Linked DNA regions of Homo sapiens: region 1 is linked to region 2. The links come from fine-mapping of genetic effects on gene expression. A gene starts in region 2. The other region holds a variant in brackets. All regions are shown on one strand. Distances are between the middles of the regions. Region 1 has its middle 26 kb from the start of CHGB. Region 2 holds the start of TRMT6 (tRNA methyltransferase 6 non-catalytic subunit).

Region 1 (15,824 bases), 66 kb before region 2:
TCTGCTTACATCACATGCCCCATTGGCCAAAGCAAGTCACATGGCCATACTCAGAGTCATTATGGGAAAGCACTACACACGGGCATGTAACACAAGGAGGCATGATTCATTGGCAGCCATTTCTAAAATGATCTCCCACAAAGGGTGAGAATATTTTTCTTTCTTTTTCTTTTTTTTTTTTTTTTTTGAGGCAGAGTTTTGGTCTTGTTGCCCGGGCTGGAGTGCAATGGCGTGATCTCGGCTCACCACAACCTCTGCCTCCCAGGTTCAAGCGATTCTCCTACCTAAGCCCCCCCGAGTAGCTGGGATTACAGCCTTGCACTGCCACTCCCAGCTAATTTTGTATTTTTAGTAGAGATGGGTTTTCTCCATGTTGATCAGGCTGGTCTCGAACTTCTGACCTCAGGTAATTTGCCCACCTCGGCCTCCCAAAGTGCTGGGATTACAGGTGTGAGCCACTGTGCCTTGCTGAGAATATTTTTCAATAATATTTCTTTATGAACATCTATCACTTGGATCTGCTACATATTTTTCTTTTTCTTTCTTTCTTTTTTTTTTTTTTTTTTTGAGACCAAGTCTTGCTCTGTCACCCAGGCTGGAGTGCAGTGGCACAATCTCAGCTCACTGCAATCTCCACCTCCCAGGTTCAAGCAATTCTCCCTACCTTAGCCTCCTGAGTAGCTGGGATTACAGGTGCCCGCCATCACACCCAGCTAATTTTTGTATTTTTTAGTAGAGATGGGGTTTCTCCATGTTGGCCAGGCTGGTCTTGAACTCCCAACCTCAGGTGATCTGCCCGCCTTGGCCTCCCAAAGTGCTGGGATTACAGGCATGAGCCACCATGCCCGGCCTGCTCACATATTTTTGAACACCTTTCCACATTTAGATATTTCCCAGCCTTGGGAAACACCTTTCCCAGCTTCCCCTGTCAATGTGCTACACACACAGGACTTGGCTCTGCCAACCAGACACAAGTGTGAGGCTGAGAGATGACCTGTGAAGAAACAGGCAGGGCATTTGGGCATCCATTGTGTTGAAGCTGAGGCAATTGGAAATAGCATATTTCTGGAGGGGTGGCAACAACAGCTTCTCGACTGTGGCAGAGGTGGTGTGATTCAGGGCTTGGTGAGGGTGAGGGTGGTTTCCTGACCAGGATGAAGGAAGCCTCGTACAGAAGTCAGAGGCAGCCACATTTCCCTTGCCATTCTAGTTCTGTGGTGTGAGCTGGAAAGTTGTTGCTATAATCCCAGCCTATAGCTTATTCCTGTAGCCCTTTCAACATTTTGATGCATTTCTAGCAAATCCCAGTTCCTTAAATTAGCTAGAGTGGTGTGGGAAACCAAAATATGCCACCCCAAAATATACTTCTTTGGCATATTTCAAGTTGGTTATTTGGAAAAGCTGCAGATGGGAATAGCTCTGAAAAAGCTACCCTCCTGTAAAAGAAATTTACATCTATCTACATTAGTAAAGCAAACAGGAGATGCAGGCACAGGCTTTCTCTGAGGTTCTCTTATCCATATCTAGGAAAGAGTAACTCACAGGAAAATGAGACTGGTGGTCTGACACTTTTATCTTTGTTTATTTATTTATGTTAGTTAGGGTCTCACTTTCTCACCCAGGCTAGAGTGCAGGGGCATGACCATGGCTCCCTGCAACCTTGAACTCCTAGGCTCAAGCCATCCTTCCAACTCAGCCTCCTGAGTAGCTTGGATTATAGGCACATGGCACCAAACCCAGCTAATTTTCTTTTAATTGTTTTAGAGATGGAGTCTTGCTATGTTGCCCAGGCTAGTCTTGAACCTCTGGCCTCAAGCAATCCTCCCACCTCAGCCTCCCAAAGCAGTGGGATTACAGGTGTGAGCCACCATGCCCAGCCTGATACTTTTAAAGGTCTGACAGAGAAACCTTTACCACAGGCTGCCATCTATTTTGTTCTCAGGACTACTGTCTGAGAGATTTCATCTGCATAGTAAGACAGGCTTTGCTTGACTTGCCTTTCTTCCCTTCACCCTCCCATAACCTGTTACCACCTATCCCCAGGAGCCCCAAGCTCCTATTTCTTTCCATATGGTATAAGAACTTCAGTCATCTGGCTCTTCTTTGAGTCTCATATTTTGTATGGCTTCTGTGCATTTGCATGTAAATAAATTTATATGCCTTTTCTCCTATTAATCTGTCTATTGTCCATTTGTTTTACAGACCCAAATTATTGAACCTTCAGAAGCAGGGGGAAGAAAAATTCCCTTCACCCCTACAGTGGATTCTGTTGTCTGCAGGTGGTAACGCTGGTGGATAAAAATCTCTTTTTGAATTATCAGCTATATGTCGGTCTTGCCTATTCAAAAATAAACAAAAATGTAATTTAAAAATGAATAATGTAAAAGGGTGTGATCTAAATCTTCCCCAATCCCTGTTTAATGTCTGTCTCCCAAGCAGTCCCTCTCCCTCCTGACCTTGACCTCTCATTTTTCCCTGAAGCACAATCTTGAGCCCTGCTTGATCCGTATGAAACCGCTATTTTTGTTGGTCAAAATAGCCAAGAACTAGCAATTCCATAGTCTTCAACTTCACACTTGCCATTTGTATTAGTCTGTTCTCAAGCTGCTAATAAAGACATACTTGAGACTGGGTAATTTATAAAGAAAAGAGGTTTAATTGACTCACAGTTCCACATGGCTGATGAGGCCTCACACTCATGGCAGAAAGAAAATGAGGAGCGAAGTCACATCTTACGTGGTGACAGGTAAGAGAGCTTGTGCAGGGGAACTCCCATTTATAAAACCATCAGCTCTCATGAGACTTATTCACTACCGTGAGAACAGTAAGGAGGAAACTGACCCCATGATTCAATTATCTCTACCTGGTCCCTCTCACTGCACGTGGGAATTATGGGAGCTACAATTCAAGACGAGATTTGGGTGGGGACACAGCCAAACCATATCATCATTCTTTGGAATTTATCTTCCCTCAAAACTCCAGCTATTATTCATCTGCCAATTTTCAAGTCTTTACCAAGTTTCTATCCTATATAACTCTAATTTCCCATGGAACATTCTACTCATATGTGTCCTTGTCGCTTTAAAGAAAATGTATAGAAAATCAAATGTATCCTCTTTCCCACAAGTTAATATTCTCATTTGATGCCTCTAATCTATCCATGGCACTAACATTTGCTGTCACTCAGGCTTGACGAAGTGTGGATTCATTATGACTTTTACTTCTAAATGTCTCACTGTATACAGCAAGAAGTGGTGGTTAAGAGCTGAGACACAGGAGGCGGCCTGCCTGGGTGTGAATTTTGACTTGGCCATTTATTAGTGTATGTCCTTGGGCATGTTATTTAACCTGACTGTGCCTCAGCTTCCTCAACTGTAAAACAGGAATAACAATAGTGCTTAGTTCAGGAGGCACAAATGAGTTCAGATTTTTACAGACAGTTCCTGACTTATAGCTCAACTTAAGGTTTTTTATCTTTACAATGGCATGAAATCATTCAGTACACTCCTCAACTTTTGATGGGATTACAATTTCATAAACCTATCATAAATTGAAAATATTCTAAATCAAGCAACTTAAGATATTTTCAATTTATGATGGATTTATCGGGATATAACCTCATCTTAAATCAAGGAACATCTATATAGTATTCAGAACAGCACCTAGTATATAGTGGTTTTTTTAAATTTGTTTGTTTGTGATGAAGTTTTGCTCTTATTGCCCAGGCTGGAGTGCAATGGCTTGATCTCAGCTCACCGCAACCTCCGCCTCCCAGGTTCAAGCGATTCTCCTGCCTCAGCCTCCCAAGTAGCTGGGATTACAGGCATGTGCCACCACGCCCGGCTAATTTTGTATTTTAAGTAGTAACGGGGTTTCTCCATGTTGATCAGGCTAGTTTCGAACTCCTGACCTCAGATGATCTGCCCGCCTCAGCCTCCCAAAGTGCTGGGATTATAGGTGTGAGCCACCGCACCCAGCCAGAAAGCACTTTGGGAGGCCAAGGTGCACAGATCGCTTGAGCCCAGGATCTTGAGACCAGCCTGGGCAACATGGCAAAACCCTGACTCTACAAAAAAATACAAAAAATTAGCTGGGCTGAGAGGCGTGTGCCTGTAGTCCAAGCTACTTGGGAGGCTGAGGTACGAGAATCACCTGAACCTGGGAGATAGAGGCTGCTGTGAGCCATGATTGTGCCATTGCACTCCAGCCTGGGGGGCAGAGTGAGACCCTGTCTCAAACACACACACACACACACACACACACACACACACACACACAACCTCTTACACCTGCCTTGTCTTTTTCTTCCCAACACCATCACCTGCATCATTTTCATCTCCTTAAGGACCTCCTGAAGGTTTTCCCTGCTGCCAGTTCTCCCCTTTTCAGCCTCTTCCATTCACTGTTGCTACCACGTTGATTTTCCCAAATCACCGAGGGTATCCTATCTCATCCCCCACAGAAAGCTCCTTAATGCCAACAAAAGGAAGCCCCACCACAGGTCCACACTGATCGAACCCAGATGTCCTGCCCTCTCCACATTTCTGAGACTGGACCCGCCAAAACATTCCTTTCCTTCTCTAGCTCCCACGGCTCTACCCAGCTACTCATTTGCACTTTAACTGCTACACAGCAGGACTGTCCTTTAACTGTTAACATGTGTACATCTGCCTTCCTTGAACAGGCAGAAAGTTCTTGAAGGCTGGAGAGCTTATACCACCCATACCAGGCACAGAGTAGTGCTGGGTAAATAGCAACCAAGACGTAATTTTTTTCTGTATTCACACTTCCTTTTCAGCTTCCTGGTGGAGTCAGCTTGACAACATCTTTCTCTTTCCTACAACTGAAACTATAATTTTAAAACCAAGAGCAAGGGGCCAGTGTCGGAGATGGGTTCGTACCTTCTGAAAGACATCATGGTGGAAGGAAGAGTCCAGTTGCAGGCGTGAGAGGCTAAAGCACTTCCATTAACGAGCAGGGTGTCCAGTGAGGCTCATCTACCTCCTCTGAACTTCATTTCCGTGTCTGCAAATGAGGACATTAACAAAGCTCCCGGTCCCCCTCAGGCTTAAACGTTCTGTGACAAATCTCTAAGAGGGTGGATTCGGGAAACTAATTTTCAAATTAATTGAGCAGTGTGGAGTTATTGCACGGAGAATTAAACTGCTGTCCATAACAGTTCATTTCCTGAGTTTGTTTATCAACCACTGTTTAATAGGCACTATTTATTCTGCAGTATCATGGGTGGAGTGCTATGGAGACACAGAAGTTGTATCTCACCAGATCCATAGCTTCAAAAAGTTTATTATGTAATTAGAGTTTATTATATAATAAAAGCTCACCAAGCTCATGATCTGGCAAATGGCATTGTTTGTTTACCTAAGCCTTCTTTTGTAAAATAAGAAAGTTTTACTTGAATCATTATGTATAATACCCCTGGGAGCTGTGTGTTCTATGTGTCATTTCTATGTTATTTTATTTGAAATACACACACACACAGTATGTTTCAATGTAAACATATGCATTTAAAATGTATATTTTTAAATATCTCCATCAACAGGCTGATTTTTAAAACTTTTCAATATACCAAATAATGTAGATTTTCAAATATACACAAAAATAGAGAGAATTGTATTATGAACTCCATGTACTGATCACCTACCTTCAACAGCCATCAGCTTTCTGCCATTCTTTTTCAGCAGATCCCACCACCACCTCCCTCTGTGTGTGTGTGTGTGTGTGTGTGTGTGTGTGTGTGTGCGCCAAGACACTGCTCCTCAAGCTAAGGACTCTTTTGTTCAATTTCCGATCTGCCATGGACCAATACCAGCACACAGCTCACACCCAAGCCACACATAACACACTATGCAGGTTTGACAACACCCAAACTAAGTTCTATTCTCATTAGAGTCCACCACTCACTACTTGGATGCCATGGCAATGTCAAAGTACTATAGCCATTTCTAAATATTTGTTGTCAATTTCTGCACTTATTACAGACCAAGAGCACACAATTTGCAAACTGGCCCCAATCCTCAGACTTTGAGTAGTACTGCATGCGCTAGAGTATTTTAAAATAAAATCTACGGCATTATTTTATTGCAGCTGCAAATTCAGCATGTATCTCCAATGGATAAGTATGTTTTTGTTGTTGTTGCTCTGTCACCCAGGCCGGAGTGCAGTGGTGTGATCTTGGCTCACTGTAGCCTCTGCCTCCCAGGCTCAAGTGATCCTCCCACCTCAGCCTCCCGAGTAGCTGAGACTATAGGTATGCACCACCACACCCGGCTAATTTTTTTGTATTTTTGGTGGAGAAAGCATTTCACCATGTTGCCCAGGCTGGTCTGGAACCCATGAGCTCAAGCAATCTGCCCGCCTCGGCCTCCCAAAGTGCTGGGATTATAGGCATCAGCCATGGTGCCCAGCCTTGTACTTTTTAAAAACAACCAGAATATAATACTCCCAAGAAAATAATCAATAATTCCTGAACATCATCTACTATTTAGTCCATATTCAATTTTCCCCAGTTGTCTCAAAAATGCCTTCTTACAGTTGGTTTGTTTGAATCAGGATTCAAACAAGGATTTTGCATTTGGTTGACATACCTTTTAAGCCAAACTATAGTAGTCTCTCTCTCCTTTAAAAGCTGCTTTTAAGCCACTCTCCAAATAGATTGGTTTACCATTAACTATAAAAGGTTTCCTGACCCATATTGCTTCAAGCAGTTTTTCCATGCATTTGCTTTGTGCCACAGTGTGACTGTGGCTTAAAAACCAATTACTTCTTCCCCCTAAAAATGCCCATTATCTGTGCCTATTAGAGGCACATTTACATTCCCCAGACTTTTTGCCAGGGCACCAGAACTATTTAGATTACCATGTATTAAAAAAGTGCCAGTCACTCTCACTGTCTTATCACCTCTGGTTCTCTTTGTCTCCAATGGGCCCATTCATTGAGCAGATATCTGTGCATGTTGTTAAATGAACCATGGATGTTCTTGCCCTTGATGTACCAAAGCAGTGTTTACCAGGTACATTCATTTCTTCGGGGACCTATGCAGACATATAGTGGGCATAGTGGGAAAGTGAGGAACTGAATATGACTTGAGATACTCAAGTGATTTGATTTGGACCAGACCCATCTGTGGCTGTCACACAATGACATCTTTTTCCATACTCGTCACCACTAAGGCTACAGGAGCTCAGGTAGCTTTGGGTCTTCACTGGCCAACATTTTAGGAAGAATCATAGAAAAATCATAGAACAGAAAAATAATCTCAGCAACTATGCAGTCAAGCCCCCGAAGGGTTGGAGACAAAAGCCCCCACAGCTATCTAGATGCCTCCTGGACAAGGGCCCAGGTCTCTGACCTCCAGAGGAAGCTCTGTGTATATGGGATATCAATTTCTATGCCACTCAGGGTTCTCAGTTGCACATAACAGAAGAGGATTCTGGCTGACTTTAATAGAAGGATAGTAGGTGGCTAATAGAATTGACAGGATGGGTAACCAGGTTTTGAAATCAGGCAGGCTCTGAGGGAGGCCAGGCAGCAAGGACACAGCCTAGGCCATGCTTCAGGGGCAGTCTGGGTAGGATGTCCCTAACTGTGGCTCTGCTGCCACTCTGGCTGCTGGACATCAACACAACTGAACACAGGAGCCAGATGCTGCGGCTGCTTGAAATTCTAAACTATCCCTGAGTCTAAATTAAAAGTCCTGGTGTAGGCAAAAGAAAGAGAGATCAGACGGCTGCTGTGTCTATGTAGAAAGGGAAGACATAAGAAACTCCATTTTGACCTGTACCCTGAACAATTGCTTTGCCCTGAGATGCTGTTAATCTGTAACTTTGCCCCAACCTTGAGCTCAGAGAAACATGTGTTATATGGAATCAAGGTTTGAGGGATCTAGGGCTGTACAGGATGTGTCTTGTTAACAAAATGTTTACAGGCAGTATGCTTGGTAAAAGTCATCCCCATTCTCCAGTCTCGATAAGCCAGAGGCACAATGCACTGCGGAAAGCCGCAGGGACCTCTGCCCTGGAAAGCCGGGTATTGTCCAAGGTTTCTCCCCATATGATGGTCTGAAATATGGCCTTGTGGGATGGGAAAGACCTGACTGTCCCCCAGCCTGACACCCGTGAAGGGTCTGTGCTGAGGAGGATTAGTAAAAGAGGAAAGCCTCTTGCAGTTGAGAAAGAGGAAGGCCACCGTCTCCTGCCTGCCCCTGGGAACCGAATATCTCGGTATAAAACCCGATTGTACATTTATTCTATTCTGAGATAGGAGAAAAACCGCCCTGTGGCGGGAGGCGAGACATGTTGGCAGCAACGCTGCTCTGTTATTCTTTACTCCACTGAGATATTTGGGTGGAGAAAAGCATAAATCTGGCTTACATGCACATCCAGGCATAGTACCTCCACTTGAACTTATTTGTGATACAGATTCCTTTGCTCACATGTTTTCTTGCTGATCTTCTCACTATTATCACCCTGCTCTCCTACCGCATTCCTCTTGCTGAGATAGTGAAAATAGTAATCAATAAAAACTGAGGGAACTCAGAGACCGGTGCTGGTGCTGGTCCTCTGTATGCTGAGCGCCGGTCCCCTGGGCCCACTGTTCTTTCTCTATACTTTGTGTCTTATTTCTTTTCTCAGTCTCTCGTCCCACTTGACAAGATATACCCACAGGTGTGGAGGGGCAGGCCACCCCTTCATCCTGGGTGGGAGCATTTGATTTGCTGAGACTAGATAATATGACTG[T/C]CCTCTAGTGGCCAGGGACCAGCAAAAGGGCATCTGGCTCCGCTCCTTTCTATAGTGGGAAGTAGATCCTGCCTGCCTTCATGACCACATCACAGAGGGAAGGGCATTAGGATGCTAAGTAACCCCTACAACCGCAAATGACTATTTCACCTCCCCATTTGGACTTCTGTGAGCATATAGACATCACCAACAGTTTTGTTTTCGTTTTGCTTTTCTTGAGACAGGGTCTCACTCTGTCACCCAGGCTGGAGTGCAGTGGCATTATCATGTCTCACTGCAGCCTCTGACCTCCTGGGAACAAGCAATCCTCTAGCCTCAGCCTCCTGAGTACCTGGGACTGCACGCATGAGCCATTATGCTTGGCTAGTTTTTTATTTTTTAATTTCTTGTAGAGACGAGCTCTTGCAATGTTGCCCAGCCTGGTCTTGAACTCCTGGGCTCAAGCAATTCTCCTACCTTGGCCTCCCAAAATTCTAGGATTAGAGGCATGAGCCACTGTGCCTGGCAGTTACTTTATTTCTACAAAACATGGAGGCATTTCCTATCACTCCTCAAATGAGTTACACCCCCCACAAAAAGCACTGTTCTAAGTGCTGAGTTTGCAAAGGCTTTAACCTCACTGAAGGGGAAAGAATTTCTTCTTCTGTCTCGCTAGTTCACTGATTGCCTCCTTCTGGCCCAATGTCTGGGGGAAAACCAAAGATCAATGTGTCCACTTGACTTTTGCTCAGATGCTTAGTGTGCAGTTAGCTTCCAGGAGCATGGAAACTTCTTCTCCAAGGGTTCCATTAGTGATTAGACGTGCACTTTAAAGTATGTCATGCTGCCACGTATCAGACTGGGACAGAGATGAACTGGAACATGAGAGATGTGTTGAGGTGACAGCCAGGATTCTGCCATTGTTCTTTCAGTGTATTTCTGATGCCTCTCAAATTCCATAAGGGGAGGTGTTGATGTCTGTGGTTAAGTAACATGAGGCCAGAGCTGACGCTGTGGCAGCTGCTCCCAAAGGCACAGAGTTTCTTCGTTGCCAGGAAAAGATGCCCTTGAATTTTCTGGGCTGAGGTAAGAAAGTTTGGCAGATCCTGCCTTCTCTGCTTTCTGTTTGCCTTAATGGATATCAAGATAGAAAATAAGGAGCCAGAAGGACCTTCAGAGAATCTATTCACGGCCTGTGTGTCTTAGGCTCCCCCCAGAAATAGACTCTCCGGCACAAATTCAAGTGCAAGTAGTTTATTTGAGTGGGAAAGCAAGGAACTGAGACAGGAGAGGGAAAGAAGCAGTAAAAGGTACATTATCAAGCAAGTTACCACTGTGGGCATCTGGAACTTAAGCCTACTGGAGCCAGTGCAGATTGTAAGCTTCAAAGTTATCCTGCAAAAGGAGTAAGGCAGCTAGGGTATTTAAACACCAGTCCCCATCCATCTTTGATTGAAGGCTGAAACTGGGAGGGCACTAATTTCCAAGTGCTTCCAGCTTGCTGTGTGAATGGGCAAAGCAAGCTCTGGCCACCAGACAAAGCCCTCGGGCAAAGAGGCAGATGCTGGCAGTTGAAAGTCAGGTGCTGTGGCACAAAATGCTAAGGCCCGAGGGGGCATGGGCAGGGCACCCAAAACATCTGCTGTACTGTGTCCACTCTCATCCTCCAGACTTGTGGACAAACTTCCTGTTCATCATTCATTCAAAGCCCAGCATAAATCTTCCCAGAATCATCCGGGCGTGGTAGCTCACGCCTGTAATCCCAGCACTTTGGGAGGCCAAGGCAGGCGAATCACCTGAGGTCGGGAGTTCAAGACGAGCCTGACCAACATGGAGAAACCCTGTCTCTACTAAAAACACAAAATTAGCCTGGCTTGGTGGTGCATGCCTGTAATCCCAGCTACTCAGGAGGCTGAGGCAGGAGAATCACTTGAACCCGGGAGGCAGAGGTTGTGGTGAGCCAATATCGCACCATCGCACTCCAGCCTGGGCAACAAACTCCGTCTCAAAAAAAAAAAAAAAATTCTTCCCAGAATCAATCAGGAGGTGCACATCCTCCACCAGATTCCTAATTGGTACAGGTGGTTTATTTCACTATTTACTGCTCAATAACTCTCTACCCGTGTTGCAGAGTCACTCAGGTTTAATCTTCTTTCAACCCTGCCAGAAAACTCATCAGCAGCCCACAGACCCTGACCACAGCCCTGGCATAACTGAATAAATGCTGACTAATTGACTAACTCTCATTTCCTTCTATTCAGCAAATGTCCTGGATATTTGGAAATGCCACAGTTCACAGCCAATGCACTTTCAGCAGGTCCTGAAAAATGATTTGGAGAGGTTTACAATTTGCTAAATGTGTTGAGTCTGGGATTGGTAGAGAACCATGACCTTGGGAGAATAGAATGTTTCTCTTCTCTGGGACATAGGTCGGGTTCCTTCGGGACTATGGATAGAATTTGCTTAAACTGTGGGTCAGCTAGTTGTGAGTTGGCAACTTGGGGATGTCTGTGAGAGGCTGGGATTGTGGGGAAAGCAGAAACACTTGCTTAGTTTTGTCTGGTGTGCGAATATCCTACTAAGATTTACTGAAGGAATAGAAAGACCATCTGAGGTTTCCCATGTGATCTTATATTAATGAAGGGATATCTTTGAGTCTCATGTCTTGCTGGTTTTCATCATTCATTTTTTTTTCTTTTTCACCCTGAGTATCAGCCTTTAATAGAAATTGTGATATCTCAGGATCAGGTGGTTACATCAAAAAGAACCTTAATAGGTCACCTGGGCAGTCTCTCAGTCTCCAGGCTATACCGTGCTTAAACTATTCCTAACAGGACGCTGCTTATCCACCGTCTGGAAATTTTTCCAAAAGTGGGGTCAGGCTGGGTGCAGTGGCTCACTCCAGACCGACCAGCCTGGCCAACATGATGAAACCCCATCTCTACTAAAAATACAAAAATTAGCCCGGCTGGTCTGGCTACTCGGGAGGCTGAGGCAGGAGAATCGCTTGAACCCAGGAGGCAGAGGTTGCAGTGAGCCGAGATCTCGCCATTGCACTCCAGCCTGGGAGCAGAGCGAGACTCCATCTCAAAACAAAACAAAACAAGACAAAACAAAAGGGGGTCAAAGAAATGCCATCTGCATTATCAGCACATATAGTTTTCTGCCCAGATCATAAAGTTTATAACATCTGCCTTATTTATATCAAATATGTCATCTATGTCAATGTTTACAGCTATATCATTTATCTATAGGCTGTATCTTATAACATCATTTGCCTCTATATTTACACATACTCTGCCTACATCTGTGTTCACAGCTTTATCATCTACAGCTACATTTTCATCTTTACTATCTACATCACCTATACCTATGCTTATATTACATCATTATCTACATCAACATTTTTATCTACACCTTCTGTACCAGTGGTTCTCAACTGGAGAAACTTTGCCCAGGGACATTTGGCAACTTCCAGAAAGACTTCTTATTGTTACAACTCAGGGTTGGGGGAAGAAATGCCCTCAGCATCTAGGCCAGAGATGCTGCTAAATCCCAGGGATACTGCTAAATCCTGCAATGCACAGGACAGTCCTTGACAACAAAGATATATCCGGCCTAAAATATCAATAGTGTTGAGGTTAAGAAACTCTAATCTACATCACCTACCTCATCTGCATCCATATTTACAGCTATGCCATGCACATCTGCATCTATATTTGCATCTACTCTATCTAAATCTGTGTATATATCTACACCATCTACTCTACATTGGCATCTACGTAGTCGACAGCTACCTCTACAGCATCTACAATATCTATGTCAACTACATCGACGTCATCCACTCCATGTACATCATCCACATCTACGGGATCTAAACTTTGCATGCACATCTATATCTAATTATATAGATGATATAACAATCAACACATGCTTGTTATATCAAAATGAGTGGTCCTTTTAGACTAGAAAGCAAATCTAATTTTAATTTTTCCCTCCACTGGCCACACACATAAAACGTGAGTGGAACAGATCCTTACCTGGCAGGGGAGATACCATGATCATGAAGGTGGTTTTCCCAGGGTGAGGTTCCACTGCACTCCAGAGGTGCTGATCCTGTGATTTCCCCAAATGTGGGAAACGCAACTGCATAATTTGTGGCAGTGGGAACTATGTTCTCACTATCCCCTGTTTTTGTTGTTGTTGTTGTTGTTTGTTTTTTGTTTTTTTTGAGACGGAGTCTCACTCTATCACCCAGGCTGGAGTTCAGTGGTGCAACCTCGGCTCACTGCAAGCTCCGCCTCCCGGGTTCACGCCATTCTCCTGCCTCAGCCTCCCGAGTAGCTGAGACTACAGGCAGCCGCCACCATGCCCGACTAATTATTTTGTTTTTTTTTTTTTTTTAGTAGAGAAGGGGTTTCACCGTGTTAGCCAGGATGGTCTCGATCTCCTGACCTCGTGATCCACCCACCTCGGCCTCCCAAAGTGCTGGGATTGCAGGCATGAGCCACCGCGCCCAGCTCTCCCACTTTTTTAAAAAAGGGAGTAGAACAGAGGCCAATCATTGTCTATTATACTCCTTAAAGTATAAGAGGCATGAGCTGTTTTCCAACTTTGTCCTTGCTAGCAAACACCTCAATATTGTTGGTTTATGGGCTTTGATAAGCAACGAAGGAGGCTTCCATTTTGATTTGGGTCGAAGTGAGAAGTTAAACACGTGCCTGATAAATTTCATTCCTGCTCTGTCTTTGCTTGCCAGCATCCCGGGATGAGAGGGCATCAGATGCAGAGACACTTGTGTCACAATTCATCACAATGGTGATAAAGAATAGTTTCTTCTCAGAAGAGCGATCACTGCACTTAGAGAACCTGATATGGTTGATCACATCTTGTTCCACCGGAACTGGTCTGGGCTGGAAAACACGCAGTTGACACATGGGAAGCCGCAGATGCTGCTATTTCACCCTGGGCTCTTTGGGCCTCAGAATAGTAAAAGACATCTGATTCCATGACCAAAACAGCAGCTCGGGTTGCCACGTTCAGTTAAGCTTCCTTAGGTACATGAGCTGATTTGTCAGCCAAGATAAAAGTCAAGTGATGTTTCTAGATGAAATTGAGAACACGGGAGATAGACAAACAAGAGCAAATCCCTGTGGCTTCTTTAGCCTGTGACATTTACTCAATAACTTCGCTTCCTGGTAGAAACCCATGCCTCCTGGAGACCATTATTTTTCCTCCAGGAACAAGATTGGCCTGAGGCAAAGTTTCAAAACAGACTCTTACTCACCTTTTTATATTCTCATTTTTTGTAGTGTTTTCAAATTCTCAATAAATATTAATACTAATACCTAGAACTTGGAAATGAGAAATCGGAAGTTATTTACTCATTATTCTGGATTTAACATTTTTTGTTTGTTTGTTTGTTTTGAGACTGAGTCTGGCTCTCTAGCCCAGCCTGGAGTGCGGTGGCACCATCTCGGCTCACTGCAACCTCCGCCTCCTGGGTTCAAGCAAGTCTTGTGCCTCAGCCTCCCGAGTAGCTAGGATTACAGGTGCCCCCTACCACGCTCGGCTAATTTTTGTATTTTTAGTAGAGACAGGGTTTCACCATGTTGACCAGTCTGGTCTGAAAGTCCTGGCCTCCAGTGATCCACCTGCCTCGCCCTCCCAAAGTGCTGAGATTACAGGCATGAGCCACCGTGCCTGCCTAGATTTAACTTATTTTAATAAATAAGAAATATTCTGTCTAGTAGTATTTACAAAGAACTATAACCTATTGCAAATATCCAAACCTTGTCAAAGGCTAGCAAACATTACTAAGTAGTTTTTGAATCAAATCTAGCCCAGCAAAGTTAACAGCATTACATAGAAATCGCAATTCAAAATCATCAATTTATAGATTTTTTTGCTTCCAAAAGTTGTTATTTCTTGGAACATCACTCTTAGGGTCTGTGTAAAGTATGCTATAAAAAGTGCAAAGTTCTTTTTTCAATTTTATTTTTAAAACTTTCTCTTTGTTTTTTTGAGATGGAGTCTCTTTCTGTCACCCAGGCTGGAGTGCAGTGGCACAATCTCGGCTCACTGCAACCTCTGCCTCCTGTGTTCAAGTGATTCTCCTGCCTCAGCCTCCTGAGTAGCTGGGACTACAGGCACCCGCCATCATGCCCAGCTAATTTTTATACTTTTAGTAGAGACAGCGTTTCACCATGTTGGCCAGGCTGGTCTCAAACTCCTGGCCTCAGGTGATCCACCTGCCTCAGCCTCCCAAAGTGCTTGGAATACAGGTGTGAGCCACTGCACCTGACCTAAAAAGTGTAAAGTTCTTAATATTTATTTTATTTGCAAAAACGCCTCCCAGTTAGCAGCAGACAGGGCCAGGAACACATGCTTGTAACATGGTATCAGTTATAAGCAAGGCAGACTGATCAGCCCATGGCACCTTCTCTACATGTGCTCCCTGCCTTGCTCTCAGAAACGTTGACCTCAACCTTCAACTGCTATGTCAGTTGATCTTGCCTTCAGTGGATCCCTCGATGAATCTCTCAAACCACTGGGGCCTCTGCTGATTGTTAAGCTTTAATTCTCGCAGAATTGCAATACATTTTTTCCATTTTCTCAACTGATTTGTCTCAGAATTTGGGATGTAGAAGAGTATATAAATTGTCCAGAAATGCTGGGAAGGAATTTTCTCATGGCCACACTACTCATCACGTCATCAGTGGGGACTCCCTCTTTCCTGGCCTGTTGCTCTGACCACCCAAACTTCCCTTCTACCTGGTCCGTCTCGGCTTACCCTTTTCCCTTAATCATTTAAGCTTCAAGGATACACACTCCCTACCAGAAAAACTCCAGGATTCTCCAGGCTGGACTTTAGACTTGAAGAGAACAGCAATCCAACTGAACTATTTCACCCTGAAGTATGAATAACTAATATGCCTTCTGTAGGAATTAGAAGCATAATCAAAATAACAAATATTTCTGCAAGTATGGGAAAAATAGTCCAACAAAGCATTCCCTTCAGCGATAGCAGAAGCAAAGGTTTTCAAGGGCCACCTAGATGATAAACTGTGGGCACTGGGCTGGATGTGA
Region 2 (15,824 bases):
CGTGCAGGTTCACCCAAGTCACTTTGTTAACCCTGAAGTAATTCAATTTGGCTTTCCATGAGTTTACATTTTTGGACCACCTTTACTCACATCAGGGTGGGGTTTTGTTGAAAATGGAAATATTAAATCTTACCTCCCATTCGTTCCATCATTGCACCCAGCACCAAGCCTGCACACGTTTCCATCACAATCATTTTGTTGCCAGCACGGATATTTCCCAACGTCAACATCTGGGCTAGTGTATCGTATCTCATGTGGCTAAAGTAAAAACAATAATTTGTTCATTTTTAGCTAAGTAAAGCCTATTATTTTAATCATCATTTTTCAAGTTTTGTTTGCTTTATTAAAATTGTGTTGATAAGATTATTGATTGCTTTGGAGGTGACAGTAAAAGGACTTACAATTTATGAGGTAGGAGGATACTTTATGCAGGTGAGCAAGCTTTTTCATTTTACTTAAAATCATGACTTTCTTAAAGACATATTTCCCCCAATTATACTTTTGAAAGGAAACAAAGCGTACTTAATTTTTCCAGGTTCTCTTGCATAATACATAATTGAAAGAATACGGGTGGATGGCTTCACAACAGTAATGATGGCTTCATATCTGGGGGAAGAAAAAACAGAACGCTGATTTAAAAAAATGACTTAAAATATTTTATTTGTAATAAAATGTATATTTTATAAACATATAAGAAGTTTAATATTGTGGGCCTTTTAAAATAAAAACTACTTACTTTTTTTTCTTCTTTTTAATATATTTATCTTGGGCAAATTCTGTCTTGTCTCGGAATGTTGTACTATTTTCAATTAACTGCTGAACTATTTCCTATAAGAAAAGGAGCAAGTAGATTTTCTGAAACTTTACTTTCACAAAACAAGTAATTTCCAAAGGCTTCTTACCCAAGAATGGATCCAATGGTCTGATTCTCCAATCCCTTTTCCACAGAAGTCCAAATAGATGAACTTTATATTTCTATACTCTATTTGGAATTTATAATAAAATACAAGTACTTTATAACTCCACTTAAACCAACGTAAAAGAACAGAGATATCCAACAAAAGGAGAAGAGAGGTAAAGGAAACTAATTTCTGAAGACACTGGCTGAAAACATTACTGAAAATGAACAAAGTTAAATCCTGATATGCACTGTTATTACATTCTCTACCACTGACATTAGTAATGTCATTCACTTATATTCCTGTATATAAGACATAAAATCTTTGAAATGTTGAGTAACATGTACATTTCAACCTATTTCTATCAAAGCTATAACGTTATTTTTTTGTTTTACCTTAGGTACAGTCTGCTTTAAAAACCCAACAGTTTCCTAAATGCCAAACAGACAAAAACAAAACTAAAAATCCTTTGAATATTACCTCTCCTTTAATGCCCTTGTCCTTCAAAGCTTTTATGTCATCTTGAGTAAGTTTCTGAGATTTCCCATCATCAACTATATTTCGATTATCAGTGCCCGCTTCTTTAGTCTCTAAGGAAAGAAATTGCTCTATTGACATTTATGGTCTGAAATTATTTGACACTTTCTTTTTCTGAGTTCATATCCACATCCAGTCCATCAGCCACTCAAGTCTGGCCTCCCAGCTGCACTGCCCCCATCACACTATCCTTTCCTGCCAAAACTACTCCAAGCCTCTAAGTCATCTTCCTGCTCCCAGTCTTGCCCCCCTACTATCCACCTGGATGCCAGAGTGCTCTTTGTTTAAATGCAATTTGACTCATCTACCCCATGCTTAAAACCATACAGTGGCTTCCCATAGCAATAAGAATACACTCCAAAGATGACCTGCAAGGTCATAAATGATCTGGCCCCTGCCTATCATTCCTGGCCTGATCTCTTGACACTTTAGCTTCAGCCACAATGGCCTTCTTTCTGTTCCTTGAACACACCCAGCAAGGTCCCACAGCAGGCTTTTGGCACCTGCTGCTTCCTCTGCCTGGAAGGTTCTACGACAGATGTCTGAGTGGCTGGATCCTTTCTATCACTTGAGGCTGAGCTCATTCTCTTGCTTTACCAAATTAGTACACGCCCCTGCTTTATTATCTTCATAGCATGTGTCACTTCACCATCAGAAATCATGCTGTTTGCTTGTCTACTTGATTATTTTTGGTGTTCCAACTGGTAAGCACATTTTATACGACAGTCTATCTTATGAACTGCTATAATTGCAGCGCCAAATTATACCTGGCATATATTTGGTGCTTAGTAAAAATATGGATATTAATTTAAATGTATCTAAATAACAGGTTTGACTCAAAACTTTAACAGTATTTAACTTCAAATAATTACTTGTGTTTTAATTAATAAGATACTCTCAATGTTCATTTTAATAAATATAATTTTAATTAACAATAACAGCTTTTGGACAAGAGGTTGTTAAGAAATAATAATAGTAATAGCTAAAATTATGGGCCCTTACTAAAAGCAAGACACTATTCAGAACTTCCTATGAGTCATATCATAGAACACTCAATACAACCTAGGCATTAAATGTGTTTATGACCCTATTTTACATATATAAGGATATAAGACTCACAGAAATCAAATAAGTTGCCCAACGGTACAAGGCAAGTGATGAAGGTAGAAATTGAACTTAGCTGGATCCAAAACCAGACCTCTTAACCTCTACACCATATGCTAACCACCTCACAGCTGTTACATAACTTCTGGGCACTGAAAGAACTTTACATTATGTTCTTGCAATGACGCAGCAACGACTCATAGGATTAAATGCCTGGCCCAAGAACAGAGAACCATTTAATGGTGGGCTGGAGCCAGAATCCAGGTTATCTCATGGCCAAAGGCAGTACTTGCTTCACTCCACTGAGCTGCAGTTCTTAGATTATGAGTTAAGATTTCTTTTGGGATAGCATGGCCTAGCACTTGGGAATTAGGTGGAGGCTGAGATGTTTCTGACTAGTCAGTTGGAGAGCATCTATTTCACGCATCCAAAATGTGCACCTGCAGTAGGCTCTTCCCTCTTCTTCTTGGGCTGTAGACTTCCTCCACTGGTCACTTCAAATGCAGTTCCATAACTATGGCCAATGACGTTATCCAGGTAGAACCACTGTTTTTCGAAAGTTACTTTTCTAGGGAAAAAAAGTAATCAATTAACTGAATATCTTTTCTATCCAGTACAGAAAAGACATGTTCACTACAGTTTATTTCAAAAGTGGTCTCCACAATGGATGATCAGCAGCATTATCTCTGAACATAAAGCAACAAAGGAACTAGAGAGAACCTGGTTGGGATAGAGACGTAAAATTAATGAATAAGCCACAAGAACACTGAATTTTGGAAAGGGGAAGCAAAGACTCATCGAAGTAACAAGGATTTAACAAATTTCTTGGGCTTGGTCTGATCGGCCATTTTATTTGAAAATTATCTAATAAAAGCAAATTATACTTGCAAATAAACACTGACAATCTACACACTTGGAAATGGAGCCTAACACTGACAATGCTCTACTGAGGACCAGGCAACTTGAGGTTTCCTATGACATAGATTTTTTATCTTATTGCAATTTAAAAGAGAAATCCCACAGGAACACAATGCTTTCTTCTCAAAAGAAAACTAACATCTGCTGAGTGCCAACCAGGGGCTAGGCAGTGTGTGCGAGGTGTGATTCACACTTTTTGATTTAATTCTCACGGTAATCCTGGGACATAGCTCTTTCCAGAAGAGCAATCCGAGGCCCAGGGAGAAGTATCTTGTCCAAGATTCACAGTTGCAAGGTGTTGTTGGAGCTGGGATTCAAATTCAAATCTGTGTCTGACCCCAAGCCTCATTCTTTCCACTATACCACACGGTCTACTCCAGCAAAGACCTAAGGACGGTAGAAAGCCCACCTAGCTTCAGGACATGGCCCATGTGCACAGAACACTGAATTCTGGGAATCATGTGGTGGTTAATTCTGATTGTGCCCCATCCCACTCCTTCTCTTCCTTTCTCTGTGCCACCAGGAAGCTGATTACGACAGAATATACTGCCACATCACCCACGCTCCCGTGTCAGAGGCTTACCACCATTGCTGGTCTCTGGGTGTGTCACCTTTATTGGTTCCCTAAATCGGCCACACTTTTGAGTCACATCTTCATTAAAGCTTACTCAAACCATCTGAGGGAAATCCTGTATGATCGTAAGTGATTCAGATATGGCCAATTCTTGTTATTTGCTGGGTCCCTAGATACTTACATACAACAGAATGTAACAGACACTCAAAATATTTGCTAATGTAAACCTCCTCAGATGTTGCAATTCAGCTCAGCCCAGATGTGCACCCCCTATCCTCATCCTTTAATCACCTAGGTGCTTTGAAACACTGGATCTGGCCAGGTGTGGTGGGTCACACTTGTAATCCCAGAACTGTGGGAGGCCAGGTGGGTCACTTGAGTCCAGGAGTTTGAGACCAGCCTGGCTGACGGGGAAAAACTCCGTCTCTACAAAAAATAAAAAAATTAGCCAGGTGTAGTGGCACACACCTGTAGTCCCAGCTACTTGGGAGGCTGAAGCAGGAGGGTCACTTGAATTCAGGAGTTTCTCTACAAAAAGTACACAAATTAGTTACTGAGGAGGCTGAGGTGGAAGATTGCTTGAGCCCAAGAGGCAGTGGTTGCAGTGAGCCAAGTTCACGCCACTACACTCTAGCCTGGGGGACCGAGTGAGATCCCGTCTCACAAAACAAACAAACAGACAAACCAAACAAAAACACTGGATCTGAGATGGGTGGGTTTACCTCTCTGAGAGCCTATGTGATATGCAGAGGGGATGATGCGTGTCACTTAAAACTGGCTGGTTTGACAGGTCACTGCCCCAGTCGGGAATGTGGGGCCCCGTTAGAGGGATAAGGAGGCCACATCTTTACTGGGAAGGAGTAGGATTTGCAGAGTCTACTTCTCAGAGAGCCTGGACTGTTTTTTGCCCAATCAGATGAGTGTAGCCCCAAGGGTGATGAGGGAGTCTGACCTGGGATGCAGCTGAGCTGAGAGAGTCATTTCCTAAATAAAATGGAAACTGCCACTATGACTTCTGCGAAGAAGAGGGCCTGTTGAAAAGTATTTCCAAATAAATGTTTAGGGCAGTGGTCTCCAACCCTTTTGGCACCACAAAAGGGGAAGGTCAACTACTGTTCATGCCTGTAATCCCAGCACTTTGGGAGGCTGAGGTGGCCGGAATTACTTGAGCCCAGGAATTGGAGACTAGCCTAGACAACATAGTGAAACTCTGTCTCTGCAAAAAAAATTAATTAGTTTAAAAAAGAAAAAAAAGAAGAATTTAAAAATGGTTAAAGGTTGGTGCAGGTATTACATTTCCGGACTAAAAGAAACATACCCCTCATAAAAGAAACTTTTTATCTTTACTAAATTAGTGCTTGTGCAAAAAGCTTGGTTATCACCAGCTTAGTGCTCTGGAGACTTGTTTCTTGACTATTTTATGATGCTTGCTTCACCTTAAATACCAGTCAACAGTTTGCTTAAACCAGGAGTAAAAGAATTCATCTGAAGTAAGTACTTATCAGAAATTCCAAATCTCATACTTCCCAGTCTGCAGAAAGCTGTTCTCCTGACATTGCATTCAACTTATCTCTGTCAAAAGTAATACAATAACCTAGCTCAAAAGAAACTGTGGCCAGGTGCGGTGGCTCACACCTGTAATCCCAGCACTTTGGGAGGCCGAGGCGGGTGGATCACCTGAGGTCAGGAGTTCGAGATCAGCCTGGCCAACATGGTGAAACCCCGTCTCTACTAAAAATACAAAAAAAAAAAAAAAAGATTAGCCGAGTGTGATGGTGCCAGAGTCCCAGCCACTAGGGAGGCTGAGGCAGGAGAATCGCTTGAACCTCGGAGGCAGAGGCTGCAATGAGCCGAGATTGCACTACTGCCCTAAAGCCTGGGTGACAAAGCAAGACTCCGTCTCAAAAACAAAAACACTGTGGTTGTATTTCTCAGATAAATTAATCCAAATATCCCAATAAATTTTCACCATTAATAAGCTCTTAGGACTTAACAACCTCACCAGCCCTTCCAGAAAGTTATCAAAATCCCACTTCTTTACTTCTATAAAACAGAGCGATACTAGCCAGCAGGTGCACAAACCAAACCTAATTTGGAGTTCTGAGGCCTTGAGCAAATTGCTTTTTAGCAATTTTCCCAGCGTTGAATCCTTTGGTGAGTAAAACGAGGGAAACTCAAAGTGATTCCACACTCTGTGGTGAATTGTCTCCTTCATCTATTCTGTGTATCCTGCTTGGGTAGAGAAGAGGATAGAAAGCCAGACTAGGTAGGAGACGTTTCATTTTTTGTGGGATAGATCCTGACTGGGGGATTAGGGAAGAAGGAGGATCTATGGTGGAAAAAAAGGGGGAACCTGAAGGAGACTCTGGAGACAAGGATGAGATCCTAAAGTGAAGAAAGGAGGGGGTGTCTCTGGAAAGACAGTGAAGATCCCAAGGTCCTAGGGAAAGAACTTCAGGACAGGTGATTAGGGTGTGGAGAGGGAGGCATTGGCACCCTAGGGCCAAGAATGGAATTCTGGGGAAGGAACTCTGTGGAAAGACTGAAAAGGATGCTGAAGGTGGACGGCCAGATATGAAATCATGGAGGGGGCTCCGGGAAAAACAGGAGGGTTAAGGGAGATTATGAGGTTCGAAGACGGGATCCTGGTGGAAAAGCCTTCTGTGACAGAAAGACCCGAGGAGACAACGAGGGCGGGGAATGGGGACCGAGAGAGCCAAGAATGGCACCCTGGCGGAAGAATTCTGTGGAGAAACCTGGAGGGAGGGGGTATCTACAAGGTGGGGGCGGGAGACCCCTAAAATCAGCGATCTGACTTACTTTCTCCGCTGGACTTGTACTGCTTTAAACACATCTTCACGTTTCAGCACCACGAAGTCGCCGTCGCGGATGCGGTGGTCTCCGGGATGCTGTGGTTGTGGGCCCGGCTGCTCCCCTGAGCCCTCCATGACGCTCAGCCGGTCGCCGTGCTCCACGGCGTCCCGCCCCTCCTCCTCGGTTGTCGCCACCGCCAGCCTCACTTCCCACAACCTGGCGCACTAGGAGCCCTCCGACCGGCACCGCCCCCACGTGTTGCACGCCGCTTCCGCTTTCCGGCCCAGACCTCAAGACCGCTTCCGGAAGCCTCTCGGCTTCCGTCTGGCCAAACTCCTTGATTGGCTGCACTCCGCCCCGCCCCTCTCGTCTTGCCGCTTCTTTGAGCGGAAGTTGGATCACTGAAGCGCCAAAAAAGAATTTAGGGGAAGACCTGATTTTCGCTTGAGGCATTTTTGCGGCGCTGTGCGCTACAGACACCTTCTGGAAGCTGCGGTGGGGAAACTGAGTTTCCCGAGCCGTTGAGACAGATGGGGTTCAGCACCGCGCGGGGACGACAGGAAAGCTGCGGCTGAAGAGAACTGCGGACTTGGCAGGAGTCGCCTGAGGAGCTAAGATCCCGGAGACTCTTAGCCCCGTGGTGCTTCTCTACGGGAGGGAGGGAGGGAGAATCCGGCCGGACAGATCTGCGCGTATCCTGGAGCCGGCCCAGTTGTGAACTAGGAGAGCTTTGGGACCTCTGTCCCAAGCAAGTAAGAACTTTAGCCTTAGGAGATGTAAATAAAGTAGTATTTGAAGAAGCACAGGTACCCAACTGTTTCTTTTTACTCTTTCTCCAGTCCTACTTCTTAACGTTTTTTTGAATTTGTTACTGTTCTCAGCATATTGTCTCGTTTGAGAAGGGTATGGCACGCAGCGTTGTTGAAGGAGCGCCTCAGCTTGGGAGGCTGAAAGTTTTATCTCTGTACTGTCGACAAACAACTTTGATCTTGATCGGTTTGCTTAATTTCTTTGAGCATCAGTTTCATAATGTGTAATGCCTAATTATTGGAGCCCTGTCATGCCGTTAAATCGTGAACTTTCTAGTTACTATCTTGTTTTATTAACTAAACCCCTTTTAAGTAAGGATTTGGGTAGAGTATTTGATAATGAATTGCACTGCAGCGTACAGGTATATCTTTATTTACTTGTATACTTAGGATATGAATCATTTTTAAGTAGACGTGTATTTTATAAGAACAGTTTTGGATTTACAGAAAAACTGCACAAAAAATGGATGTGACACTGCAGGATTGACTGTATGTAAGAAGCTATGATGATGTATCCCTAGTGTCTCACAGGCCAGAATTATGTTCATCCTGTCCTGCCCTATAATAAGAAGTCTCAAATACTGCAAATAAGTTTTCATAGAGTTAATTACCTGTCCTATTTTCATTTCTGTAATGGGGACTTGTAAACAGGTACAGTACCTGTCCTTATTTTTAACCTGTGAGCGTCTAGTATACGTAAACCATATTTAATAGTTATTAAACTATTATGGTATACCTTAAAAAGCGATAGAGATTAGAAACTTAACTGCAGAATATTTGGGTCTTGTATCATAGCTGTACAACTTTGCAAGCCTGTTTGCTACTCTTGAACCTAGAATACATTAATTTTTCCCTTTTTATTAATACATTTTTAAGAGCACTATTTTCCTTACAGTTTTGGTGAAGACCTTTTTAATATCTATCTTTTAGGAGAGATGAATGGAGAGTATAGAGGCAGAGGATTTGGACGAGGAAGATTTCAAAGCTGGAAAAGGGGAAGAGGTGGTGGGAACTTCTCAGGAAAATGGAGAGAAAGAGAACACAGACCTGATCTGAGTAAAACCACAGGAAAACGTACTTCTGGTAGGTGAGGTCAATGATTGTTCAATTTTTTTCACTTAAGGAAGCAATTCACGTCTATCATACAAGGCGGTTTATCTCATACTTCAGTTTGTCTTTTATTTCATGCTACTCCTTAGTAAGTATTTGAACATTGATGTCCCAGATTTTTACTAAAACCCCTAATTTGGATACTCTATTAATGAGAGTCTCATTTGGAAAGAGAAGCATATTGGAAAAATGTTCACTCTGTTTCTACTAACCTAGTATTTTATTTTTTTCAGAACAAACCCCACAGTTTTTGCTTTCAACAAAGACCCCACAGTCAATGCAGTCAACATTGGATCGATTCATACCATATAAAGGCTGGAAGCTTTATTTCTCTGAAGGTAGGGTTTAAAAAGTACAAAAAAGCACCATAAATCATATTTTCTTAACTTGTCTTTGGATGCTACATCTTGTATTACTGTAATTCATTTACTAACATATACCTGCTTTAATCTTAGTTCACCCAAACAATTAAATGATGTTTATGTTTCAAAAGCATTTTAGACTTTATATCAGTCAGGAAAGCAGAAACCATACTAGGTATTTCAAAAAGGGGACTTAATACAAGAAATTGGATACAAAAATGGAAGACTGAAAGAGCAGAAAGGAAATATTGAGGTAACTCCCCAGAAAGTAGTAATTCAGGAAGCAGCAACCATCCTTATGGCTAAGAGACTAAAAGAAGTTCTGAGGTTACCAGAATGTGGGAATTCAAAGGTTGGAGAGGTCACAGCATAGCTGTTATTTTGACTTTTGAGGGGCACCCTACAAAGCTATGCTTGGACTTCTGAAGGCTACCTTACAGAGCTGTGCTTAGACCACTAAGGCAAATGAAGCTGGTTGCCACTGGTAACTGAGGGGGCATGACTCAGTGGTGCTTGGAACTGGAGGCTAGCACTATCGTTATCTTCTGCAGCTGCAGAGATGCTGAAAAGAGTTGGAAACAAGAATAAATTCCTTTCTCTTCCTGCCACCTTCCCGTCTCTAAAGTGCCTTCAATTGGCAGAATTTAAAGAGAATCTGAGACATGTAGGGTACAGATCTGAATTATAGCATCGCAGAGCAGGAAGTAGAACAGTGGGCCTGAAATCAAGGGACAATAACAAATACAGCTTTGTGTAGAAACACAGGTAAGGAATCTCCCTTTGATAATTAGGAATACCAATTAACCTACATCAGTCTGTATAGGTGCAGGGAACTGTCTTTTTTGTGCTGTTAAAATACCCATTTGTTTCTTATGTCTCATGAGGGGTGTGTGTGTGTGTGTGTGTGTGTGTGTGTGTGCATACTTTTTATTTTTTTTTGAGATGGAGTCTTGCTCTGTTGCCCAGGCTGAAGTGCAGTGGCGCGATCTTGGCTCACTGCAAGCTCTGCCTCCCAGGTTCACGCCATTCTCCTGCCTCAGCCTCCCGAGTAGCTGGGACTACAGGCACCCGCCACCACGCCCGGCTAATTTTTTCTGTTTTTAGTAGAGACGGGGTTTCACCGTGTTAGCTAGGATGGTCTTGATCTCCTGACCTCGTTATCCGCCCGCCTCGGCCTCCCAAAGTGCTAGGATTCCAGACGTGAGCCACCGCACCCAGCCGCATACTTTTTTTTTTTAGGAAAACTAGACGTTTGAGGTCCAGGACCCTCCCTGCCCCATACCAGGCATGCAGTAGTCATTTTGTGAATGAATAGAGTACTTTACAAATGTTTTCTTTATTGGAAATCTGTTCGTTTTTTTCCATCAATAGAATCTGTTTCATGAATGATCTTTTGTTCCTTTAGGATGTATTAGCCACCAGCACTCCCATTGCTCCCCTAGCAGATAGCTCAGAACACTATAAGTGATCTTTGGACAGTCCTAAAGATGGAGTTCAAGAGGTGCCTTAGCCTTCACCATCTGTGCTTCCAAACTACTTTATTGTACTGTTCTTCTGTGAGAGACATATTTGAAAATGTAGAACTTTAGAGTGTTAAAAAAAAAAAGGCTTTTCAGTTTTGCCACCAGGGTCAAGTGTTGGTCTGTCTCCTGATCTCAGGAAAGACTGTGATTGTGATTGTCTTCAGCTCTGTCAGAGTAAGAGCTTAGTTTATGTGTCTGGCTTTGGCTTTATTATAATTTTTAGTTTAAGCTTATTGTCTAAATTATCTGAACTAACATGTCCTATTAGGTGTCAAAGATGCAAAACAAAGTTTCCCAGATAGTGGGGCTTTTAGAGAGAGAGAGTTTCTGTCTGCATTTCACATTATGCAAACCTAAATTTGTTTTAGAATCTTAAGTTTACATTCTATACTAGTTCTTATATGAATGTAATCAAAATACAAAGCAATTAGAAAAAAATCATCTACCATGTATATAGTGCTGCTTTTGTCTCATGAAAAATGTGCATGTACCTGTGTGATTATTTGTGCTAATGCCATATTTGTTGGATTAGTTTACAGCGATAGCTCTCCTTTGATTGAGAAGATTCAAGCATTTGAAAAATTTTTCACAAGGCATATTGATTTGTATGACAAGGTAAGATTCCTCTACAGCAAAGCTACCAGTCATGTGCCATCTTACCAATGTATTCGAGGTACTTGTGATTATGATCGTAGGCACTGGAGTCAGACTTCCTTGGTTCAGACCTCAGTTCTGCCACTTACCTGCAGTATGGACTTTGATTAATTACTTCTCTGTGCCTCAGTTTTCTTTCATTTGGAGATAGAGGTATAAATACCTACCTCAAAGGATTGTTAAGAGGCAGTAATACATTAATATATTTAAAATATCAGAACCATGCTTGGCACAAAGCTTATACTTATGTCATACTTACCATTATCACATATAAACATTGTATGCTTTCTCAAAGTCTATAATAGAATGCTCAGTTAATGGTAATTGACTACAGAAAAGCAATTATTGTTTTCATACTTTTATATTTTATAGGATGAAATAGAAAGAAAGGGAAGTATTTTGGTAGATTTTAAAGAACTGACAGAAGGTGGTGAAGTAACTAACTTGATACCAGATATAGCAACTGAACTAAGAGATGCACCTGAGAAAACCTTGGCTTGCATGGGTTTGGCAATACATCAGGTAACTATTTGTCTTATGCATACTTTTGTCTAAACTTTTTTAATGTTTGCACACACATGCACACCTTGTCTAAGTTTAAAGGAAGATTTTACAGTGACTGTACTTTCTATAAGAGATACTTAGCTTTTACGAAAAGATGTTGGCTAGAACTGAGAGGTTGCAGTTCCGTTCTGAAAGATACCATTCATTCTATATACAACAGCTTATCTAAATGAAATATTTACCTCCAACTTATTTGGATTTGCTTAATCTTGCTAAAGATTGTGCAGAAATTAAACTTTGCTTTCAAGAAGTTATACAATCTCATAGGGAAGATAAAACAAGGAATCATGGTGTTATCGGTTATGAACTTAGAGCAAAAAAGAGCAACCTTAGATTTAGGTTCTGTGGCATGAAGCAAACCACTGAGTGTCCCTGTATATCAAATGTAAATAACAGTTTGTACTGTGCTTGCCTGAGTTTTTTTTCAGGGTCAGGTAATACAACATATATGAAAACATTTTTAACTTTTTAAATTTTTTAAATTTATTTTTTATTTATTTTTTTGAGATGGAGTTTCACTTTGTTGCCAGGCTGGAGTGCAGTGTCATGATCTCCGCTCACTGCAACCTCTGCCTCCCGGGTTCAAGTGATTCTCTTGCCTCAGCCTCCCGAGTGGCTGGGTGCACCACCATGCCCAGCTAAGTTTTGGAGTTTTAGTAGAGACGGGGTTTCACGATGTTGGCCAGGATGGTCTTGATCTCTTGATCTTGTGATCCGCCTGCCTTGGCTTCCTAAAGTGCTAGGATTACAGGCATGAGCCACCTTGCCCGGCCAAAAACATTTTTTAGGCTAGCAAACAGATACATGCTTCAAGGTAATGAATAGCAAATCTCAGGACAGGCATACACAAAGTGCTGGGGCATTCAGAGGGGCATTCTTCTACCTCTTGCCTGTGCTGTCCATTCAACATAGAATCCCCTTCCCTTCACATGGACAGATTATTTGGGCCTAGCTCAGTTGTCTGTCTGTAAAACCTTTCTCATGACCACTTTTCGAAACTTGCATGGTATTTTGTCTGTACATCTTTATGGTCCTTATGACAATTACAGCTGTATATATGCATCTTATTTTGCCTCTTAGGTTGCCAGCAAACTGCTGTGTACAAGTGGTATTAAATGTTTGTTTGTTGTTTATTTATTTATTTATTTTGAAATGGAGTTTTGCTCTTGTTGCCCAGGCTGGAGTGCAATGGTGTGATCTTGCCTCATTGCAGCCTCAGCCTCCCAAGTAGCTGGGATTATAGGCATGCACTGCCACACTTGGCTAATTTTTGTATTTTTAGTAGAGATGGGGTTTCACCATGTTGGTCGGGCTGGTCTCAAACTCCTGACCTCAGGGGATCCACCCACTTTGGCCTCCCAAAGTGCTGGGATAACAGGTGTGAGCCACTGCGCCCAGCGTGTTTATATTATTTAATGTTAAATGCCAAGGGAGTGAGTATTAGGTATTTTAAAGGTCATTTTTATTTTCTGTGTCTTGATTGGTCAGTGAATATAGAGAAATAGGAATGCATTTTTTTTTTTTTAATTAGTATCAAGAGGTGATGGTTTTGGGGACTAATGTAAGGGCTTTTAATGTTAGGTTTAGTTGGGACAGAAAGTAGCAGACTGGGATGCTGGAGTTTTTCAGCACAGGGACAGCAAAATCCAATGTAAAACATCCACTATAAAGTAAGTAGTCATAATTAAATATTAGATATTTAAAGGGCTGTTAAAGTTTTCTGTTTTTATTCTGTTTCTGTCCATAAACTTTATATTCTCTATAAAAATAGAGTTCTGTATAAAGAGGATGTTTTGTTTTCCAACTTCAGAGTAAATGTCTGTCCTGTTTAGGTGTTAACTAAGGACCTTGAAAGGCATGCAGCTGAGTTACAAGCCCAGGAAGGATTGTCTAATGATGGAGAAACAATGGTAAATGTGCCACATATTCATGCAAGGTGAGGAATTTGATGTATTAAAGTATTACTTAGAATGGGACATTGAAGGCCATTTAAGAATGAAAACGCTCATTTTATAAAAATGAGGAAATCAGTAAAAAGGACATGAGTTCCTTGCCATCTCATTGATCATCACACTGAAATAAACTCATTGAAAATTATTCAAAGACATCATGACAGATACTTCCTAAATAAGGAAGAAAATGTTGATTTCCTAACCTGCAGATTTTTGTAAACATTGGTTTTGGATGTGAACTTATCAAGACCCTGCTGTGTAAGTTTAATAATCCATGTATGGGTTGAGTATCCCTAATCTGAAAATCTGAAATCTGAAATGCTCCAAAATTCAAAACTTTGAGCCCTGACACGACACTGAAAGGAAATGTTCATTGGAGCACTTCAGATTTTTGAATTAGAGATACTCAACTAGTAATATTGCAAATATTTGGAAGTCCAAAAATTCCAAAATACTTCTGGTCCCAGGCATTTTGGATAAGGGATATACTCAGTCTGTAATACACTAAGTGTTCTTTGTTAAATTATTAGGTTTTTGTTAGATACAAGGGAATAATGAAATTATTTTGTTTTTCTTGAATTCATCTTTAAGATTTTAAATTCATTAGAAGAATTCATTATAAGGTAATCATCAGCATTTTGTTTTTCTTTTCCAGAATTTATAGAAGAAAATTTCCTAGCAGTTCTTTAAAAAGAACTTAGAAACCCAAAGGTTTTTGAATCTGTAGATTTTCCTTTTGGCATTATTTTTTTCCTTAAATTTCTTTTTTCTTTTTTCCTTGAGAACAGCCTGTGAGACAAGAAGAAAAAGGAAGATTTAGTGTTGTTTCTTGTTAAGAATGGTTTGGCTGGGCACGGTGGCTCATGCCTGTAATCCCAGCACTGGGAGTCCGAGGCAGGCGGATCACGAGGTCAAGCGATCGAGACCATCCTGGCCAACATGGTGAAACCCTGTCTCTACTAAAAATACAAAAATTAGCTGGGTGTGGTGGCACACACCTGTAGTCCCAGCTACTCGGGAGACTGAGGCAGGAGAATCACTTGAACCCGGGAGGCAGTGGTTGCAGTGAGCCAAGATGGCACCCCTGCACTCCAGCCTGGCAACAGAGCGAGACTCCATCTCAAGAAAACAAAACACAACAAGAATGGTTTAATTCTTGTGATATTTCTGATATATCGAAGGGATGATTTGATTTGAGAATTCCATAGTTGCTCCTAAAAGGAACTTGTGAAAATATAAAAAACATCAATTTTCTGTTCATTACTTCCTGTTTTGTCTTTAGGGTGTACAACTATGAGCCTTTGACACAGCTCAAGAATGTCAGAGCAAATTACTATGGAAAATACATTGCTCTAAGAGGGACAGTGGTTCGTGTCAGTAATATAAAGCCTCTTTGCACCAAGATGGCTTTTCTTTGTGCTGCATGTGGAGAAATTCAGAGCTTTCCTCTTCCAGATGGAAAATACAGTCTTCCCACAAAGGTAATACGTTCTTTAACTGCTTCTTTATTTATCTTGGTAAAGAAGGCAAATCAGAATACAGAAAACATTTCCCAGTGTTTCTGAACACAGAGCTTATTTTTATTTTTTATTTTCAATTTTCTGCTTTTATATTATGAAATACTTCAGGGTAAGAAAAATACAGAAATAAATAAAACATTCCACTACTCATCACCCCGAATTTACATTTTTCAGCTCCGGACACATTTTTTAATGATATAAAGCATTACTGGCACAATTAGTGTCTGTTTTTTACCTATACCATTCCCAGGGATGATCATTATCCTGAAGTTATTATAATATGCATCCCTTCCATTCATATTTCTGTTGACTTCTAGGTATACACACCAAGTTTTTTTTCCCCTTTATTTCTTCTACTATTTAGAAGTGATGGGTTTTTTAAATCTTTATTAGCCTTTATTAAACTGGATTTTAAAACTATAGAAAAGTGCAGAGAATAATGTAATTAACATTTATCTACTCTATGATTTGGCAAATATTAATA

Evidence for each region. PIP is the estimated chance that this variant, and not a neighbour inherited with it, causes the effect.
Region 1: its variant is fine-mapped to the expression of TRMT6 in whole blood (TOPMed, PIP above 0.99).

What each region holds. Positions count from the first base shown.
Region 1 is chr20:5,877,288-5,893,111 of GRCh38, forward strand. It overlaps the pseudogene RNU1-55P. Among named protein-coding and RNA genes, the nearest start is that of CHGB, 26 kb to the right of the region's middle. RefSeq lists silencers at 1-62, 15,014-15,224. The variant T/C (reference allele first, on the strand shown) is at 8,757.
Region 2 is chr20:5,943,426-5,959,249 of GRCh38, forward strand. TRMT6 (tRNA methyltransferase 6 non-catalytic subunit) reads right to left here and starts at 7,108. Exons shown (of 11, transcript NM_015939.5): 1 at 6,853-7,108; 2 at 2,981-3,108; 3 at 1,380-1,489; 4 at 737-828; 5 at 523-606; 6 at 134-258. The coding sequence starts at 6,980. It overlaps MCM8 (minichromosome maintenance 8 homologous recombination repair factor), which reads left to right and starts at 7,227. Exons shown (of 19, transcript NM_032485.6): 1 at 7,227-7,598; 2 at 8,586-8,738; 3 at 8,999-9,103; 4 at 11,183-11,265; 5 at 11,677-11,826; 6 at 13,701-13,804; 7 at 15,103-15,301. The coding sequence starts at 8,591. RefSeq lists an enhancer at 7,104-7,243.